Regions from separate parts of the Homo sapiens genome. Here region 2 is linked to region 1. Evidence: fine-mapped expression QTL. Tissue or cell type: whole blood. Region 1 holds a variant in brackets; the other region holds the start of a gene. All regions are shown on one strand. Distances are from middle to middle.

Region 1 (2,912 bases):
GTCATGTTGGAAACTACATATGTGTTAACTATTAGCAGAGATTCCCCAAGCAGCAGTATATCTAGTTATTCTGCTTTTAGTTCTTAGCTATGCATCAGAGTAAATATTCCTTAATTACATAGATAGCAGATGGATGTCTGTGCACCTCAGAGGCCTGCCTCTCATTTTCCCTGGGCAGGCTGGTGGGTGAGGGCTATATTAAGAGGCAGGGTACTGGGGCCTGATCCCTTTGGCACACTCACTGGGTTTGTGATTTGGGGCGGGTTACTCACTTCCTGGGCATCAGGGGCCTGGGCCAGGGTATCCTTGAGATTCCTTCTAACAGTAAAGTTGTGGTAAGTGGGTTTTGACATGGTTCTTCAGTGGGTTACAGCCAGAGCCACTCGGGATGGCACAGCAAAATGGTGAAGAATCAGGAGTCAGACAGACCTGCTTTTAGCAGTACTCCATTGATTGATTGATTGATTGATTGATTGATTTAGAGATGGTCTCACTCTGTTACCCAGGCTGGAGTGCAGTGGCATGATCTTGGCTCGCTGCAATCTCCATCTCTCAGGTTCAAGTGATTCTTCTGCCTCAGCCTCCTAAGTAGCTGGGATTACAGGCATGCACCATCATACCTGGCTAATTTTTTGTATTTTCAGTAGAGATGGGGTTTCACCATGTTGGCCAGGCTGGATTATTTTATTTTTTTGAGATAGGGTTTCACTCTGTCACCCAGGCTGGAGTGTGGTGGCATGAACTCGGCTCAAGCGATCGTTCTGCCTCAGCCTCCCAAAGTGCTGGGATTACAGGTGTGAGCCATCATGCCCAGCCCAGCAGTACTTTAAAAGACTATCCTCCAAGTATTGGTGTGGAGTTCATGTTAGACTCACTAATCTACTGACGACATTACTGCTGATGACATTTAAAACATTACATTAAGTTTTTTGGCAGCCCACTTAGAGTGATGTACAACAGTGATTAAACTGGACTGCCTTTAAAATGGGAACCACAAGAGTGCTACCAAGATGGGGTCCCTAGATCACTTCTGTCAGCCTTTAAAATGACTTCCTCCCAAAAGCTGTGGCTTTTATCGGGTTAGTATCATCTTTTGCTGGGCTTGTCACTGAGATGAGATTGTCTCATTGGCAAGAGATAGATAGTACTTTATTAATTGTGAAACAACTCACTAGTCAAGCCCATCGTGACACTTGTGAAACCATTTGTCTTGCAAAATATACCAAATAGCACAGCCTAGAAAATGTATCAGTTTCACACACACTGCCTATAAGATAGAGACAGAATTCTAGATCCAGAAATGAAACCACTGTCATGGTTTTGATGGTTGAATAAT[T/A]AGGAAAGTTAAGGAATTTTTGGAGTCCCTGGAGTAGAACACAGTAAGCTTTTGAATATTCTGCTAAGTTAGGGTTTCTCAACCTTGGCGCAGTTGACGTTGGAGGTCAGATAATTCTGTGTTTTGGGGGGCTGTCCTGTGGTTTGTAGGATATTTAGCAATATCCCTGGCCTCCACCCACTAGATGTTGGTAGCACCCTTTTCTCCCCTCATTTGTGACAACCAAAAATATCTGCAGACCTTGCCAAATACCCCTCAGGGGGCAAAATTCCCCCATTAAGAACTACTGCTCTGAAGAATTGAGTTTTCCCAATTAAGGCCTTAAGAGGAAGAAAACATGTCTTTTATCATGGGGCTCTCAAAGGCATTCATTTAATAGTTAAAAGTTTATCTGCTTATAATGGTGGCAGTAGAGAGAAGATGAAAATTAAACAGTGCCTTGACTAGAGAATGGTGGAAGGTTATGGTGGGGTGGGGGGGGCGGGTGGAAATTATAGCTAGGGGTGAGTTAGAGTGTCATCAGTAGAGCTGTCTCTGATACTCAACTTTTTACTCAAACTACTCACTTTTTCCAAAAAACACAAACAAAAAAACCCTATACAGTTTAAATATGTGAAGGAACTTGCTAATTTAAAGACATCTTACTATGAAAGATACTTGTTTTGGTCAAGAGCCTTATCTCAGTTTATATTTTTTATCAATATGGATTTCAGTATCAAGTGTGTTTAAATTTAAGTATATCAAAATTGGGTCAAAATAATTAATGTTTTCATGGCACTTCTGAAGTTTGACATAATGAAGGATTGGTTTTTTTTTGCTTGACTTAGTGTCTGTTAGATATGTTTGTAACATCTTGTAGGAGTATGTGTGATAATTTCCTCCTTGTTTTAAAAAAAAATTTCTTGCGTAGGATCTGGATTTTAAGGAAGGAAAAAAAAAGAAAAAAAATTGATTAATTATAAATTTGTCTCTAATCTAGATATTTGTGAGCATTTTGGACCATTATAAAATTATATAGTTAGCATTCATTACTTGGGAAGTGATGATGTCCTGAAATACATAATATTCTCTATTGACATAAACTTGTTTTTGAGACAGAGTCTCGCTCTGTCTCCCAGGCTGGAGTGCAGTGGCGCAATCTCGTCTCACCGCAACCTCCACCTCCTGGGTTCAGGTGATTCTCGTGCCTCAGCCTCCTCAGTAGCTGGGATTACAGGCATGTGCCTCCACGCCTGGCTGTTTTTGTATTTTTAGTAGAGATGGGGTTTCACCATTTGGCCAGGCTGGTCTTGAACTCCTAGCCTCAAGTGATCAGCCCACCTTAGCCTCCCAAAATGCTAGGATTACAGGTGTGAGCCACTGTGCCCCGCTGACGTAAAATTTTATTATATGTATATGGAACTCTATTCATGTATGCTTATTCTATTGTTAGAAAAAGAAATGTACTAATTGTATCTTGGTTTTAATTTTTAGAAGTCCTATAGTTGAATCCTTTCAAAGGCCTATTCAGATGATTTGATACTGAATTGCTTAGAGTGGAAATTTTTTTTTTTTTTTTTTTTTTGAGGTGGAGTCT
Region 2 (2,912 bases), 69 kb before region 1:
AAATTGTTGTTCTTGTAAGAAAAAGGAAGACACACCAGGGATTCCTGCTCACAGAGAAAAGGTCATAGGAGGACACAGTGAGAAGGCAGCTGTTTGCAAGCCAGGGAGAGAGGCCTCACCAGAAACCAGCCCTGCCGGCACCCAGACCTTAGATTTGCAGCCTCTAAAACTGTGAGAAAATAAATTCCTGTTGTCTAAGCTGCCTGGTCTGGGGTATTTTGTCATGGCAGCCTGAGCTAATACTCTGGTTTGTAAATCTACGTCACCCAGACCCCTGGAAGAGCTACTGTAGCTAGAGTCCCCACTTCCCCTCTTGTCTCTCCTACAGCCCAATCTCTGCATAGTAGCAGGAGAGAACTTTCTAAAATATAAATGAGACCTCGGAACTCCCAATTCAGACTCAATGAATGACCCCCTTCCACACAAAACTCCAAATTAAACATGGCGGCCCCCCTGTGTCACAGATCTTTCTCCCCTCTGGCACACATCAGCTATGCAGGCCTTTCCTGTTATCCAGACACCGAACTCCAGCTTCAGGGCTTTTGCACTCATTTCCCCTCTGCCTGCGGCACACTTCCCCGAACACGGTTGCATGGCTGTCACCTCCTCAGAGGCTTTCCCAAAAGCTCCTGTCACATCCTCCTGCTTGAATTTCTTTGGTCTTCACCGACCAAAATGGTCTTCTTTGGGCTCTTGTGGGTCCTGATCTCCGCCCTCCATCCCATGGGGCAGGGACCCTGCCTCGCCCACTGCTGAGCTGAGCATTTTACAAGAAGCCGTGCCCGCAGCGGGGCACCTGGCCGTAAAATGCAGATGGACGAGGCGGCATTTGGGCTGGGCCCTGAAGGACAGGGATCCAGGCCTTCCAAGAGCCGGCAGATGGAACTGGAGGGAGGCTGTCTTTGGATCCCCGGCTGCCGTGGGGCTCCGCGCCTCCGTTCCTCATATGTAGGAATGAAGACAATCACGGTTGTTCTGAGGATGCAGGGTTACTCTTCGCAGAGCAGGGCGCCCCGGTTGAGGGCTCGTCAAGCTAAGCAGGCTCCAGGGTGGGCTTCCCGATGCCGACTCTAGCTCCTCTCCCCGCTGGACGCTGTTCTACCTCCTAGCGCTTCTGCTCAGGCCGCGGCCCAGGCGAGGCCCCAGAAAACCCCGGTGCTGGTTAATCAGTCTTGAGTCCGAGCGCGTCCAGTGCGCAACGTGGCCTTCCCATTGGCTCACCCAGTGGGCCGCGCGTCGACGCCGGGGCTCCGGATTGAACGGCGCGCCCAGGTCCCTGCCCCCAGTCAGACGTGGCGCCACCGCCCCCAGCCCGTAGCTCCGGCGCAGCCAATGGCGGCGTCTCCCGGGCGGCAAGCGCGGCCTCCCGCCGCTAGAGGGCGCCGCCGCGGGCGCAACCGAGCCGCTGCCGCCGCCGCTAACCGAGGGAGAGCTGCGAGCGAGCACCCAGGCCCCGCCGCCGCCGCCGCCACCGCTGCCCGCCTGCCGCCGCCCGCCTCCGCCTGCCTTCTGCCGCCGGCCGGCGCGTCGTCCCCACAGGTAGGGGTAGGGGGACGCCGCCGGGCATGAAGGAAACGCGCGCGCCCGCGCCCCCGCCCCCCCCGCGCGCGCCGCCGCCTCGTGCTCGCGCGCGGCCGTTAACGGACGGCGGGCGGGGCGGGGGAGGGGCGGCGGGGTCCGGGGCCCGCGGACCCGAGAGGACCCTGAGAGGAGCCGGGCCGGGGCCTGTGCGCGCGGAGGGACGGGTGGGCGCGCCGTCCCCTTCCCCCACCGAGAATAACGTGACCCACTTCTGCCTGCCATTCCCTCGGCAAAATGTCTCCTTTTTGGTGATTTCACTAAAAAAAAATTTTTTTTTTGGTTATTTCTGTCTGCTCTGGTGATCGCGGGGATCCCGATTCAGCGTCTTGGGCTTGGGGGCGGGAAGGATGCCGGCGGAGAGCTTGGCGCATTAATTTGGGGCTCATCCGTCTTTTTTACCCCCCTTTCTGATTTTTTTATTTTTTCGCGCGGGGTGCAGCCCTGGGCCGGGCGGGGAGAGGCCTTGGGGTCCGCGGAGGCGGGGGCGCCGCCCGGGAGGACCGGGACCGGGACCTGTCAGTTCCCATTAGCGGGGCTTCCGGTCAGGCCTGGGCAGCAAAGGGGTGGGGCCGCCTGAGGCCCGGCCGGGGCCTCCGAGGTCGAGCCTGAGTCGGGACTGGGTGGATTTGCCAGGAGTTGGGTATTTTCCTGTCCCCACCTGTCTAGGGATGAAAAGGAGTTGCCCGTGTTCGGTATTGAACCACGAAGGACCTTGCCATGCCCAGTACGGTGGCCACTGACCCCCCGCCGTTTGGGACGATGGAGCCCACGAAATGGGGCCAGTTTCAGTTGCGGTCCCAGCTGTGAAACGTACATCTGATTTTAAAAACTTCGGATGAGAAAGAAAGTAAAAGATGTCATTGGTAATCTTTTATACTTAAATGCATGTTGAGATGGTCATGTTTGGGACAAATTGGATTAACGAAAATAGATCATTAAAATTAATCTTGGCAGGATGCAGTGGCTCATGCCTGTCATCCCAAAACTTTGGGAGGCTGAGGCAGGAGGATCGTTTGAGTGCAGGAGTTCAAGACCAGCCTCAGCAACATAGTGAGACCCCTGTCTCTACAAAAAATACAAAAAATTAACTGGGCGTGGTGGCGCACGCCGGTAGTCAGCTACTCGGGAAGCTGAGGTGGGAGAATCTGCTACTCGGAAGGCTGGGGTGGGAGAATCCCTTGAGCCCAGGAGATTGAGGCTTCGGTGAGCTGAGATTGTGCCTTTGTGCTCCAGCCTGGGACACTGTCTCAAAACAAACAAATAAAAAAACAAAAGTTAATCTCACTGCTTTTCTTTTTCTCTTTTTTTAGTGTGGCTATTTGGAAATTTAA

What was found. PIP is the estimated chance that this variant, and not a neighbour inherited with it, causes the effect.
Region 2: it holds the start of ZC3H7A, and the variant in region 1 is fine-mapped to the expression of ZC3H7A in whole blood (TOPMed, PIP above 0.99).

What each region holds. Positions count from the first base shown.
Region 1 is chr16:11,726,568-11,729,479 of GRCh38, reverse strand. The region is part of intron 4 of TXNDC11 (thioredoxin domain containing 11); the gene reads left to right. Among named protein-coding and RNA genes, the nearest start is that of TXNDC11, 15 kb to the left of the region's middle. RefSeq lists an enhancer at 892-951. The variant T/A (reference allele first, on the strand shown) is at 1,337.
Region 2 is chr16:11,795,751-11,798,662 of GRCh38, reverse strand. It overlaps ZC3H7A (zinc finger CCCH-type containing 7A), which reads left to right and starts at 1,405. Exons shown (of 23, transcript NM_014153.4): 1 at 1,405-1,539. RefSeq lists silencers at 1,122-1,531, 2,014-2,173 and an enhancer at 1,169-1,706.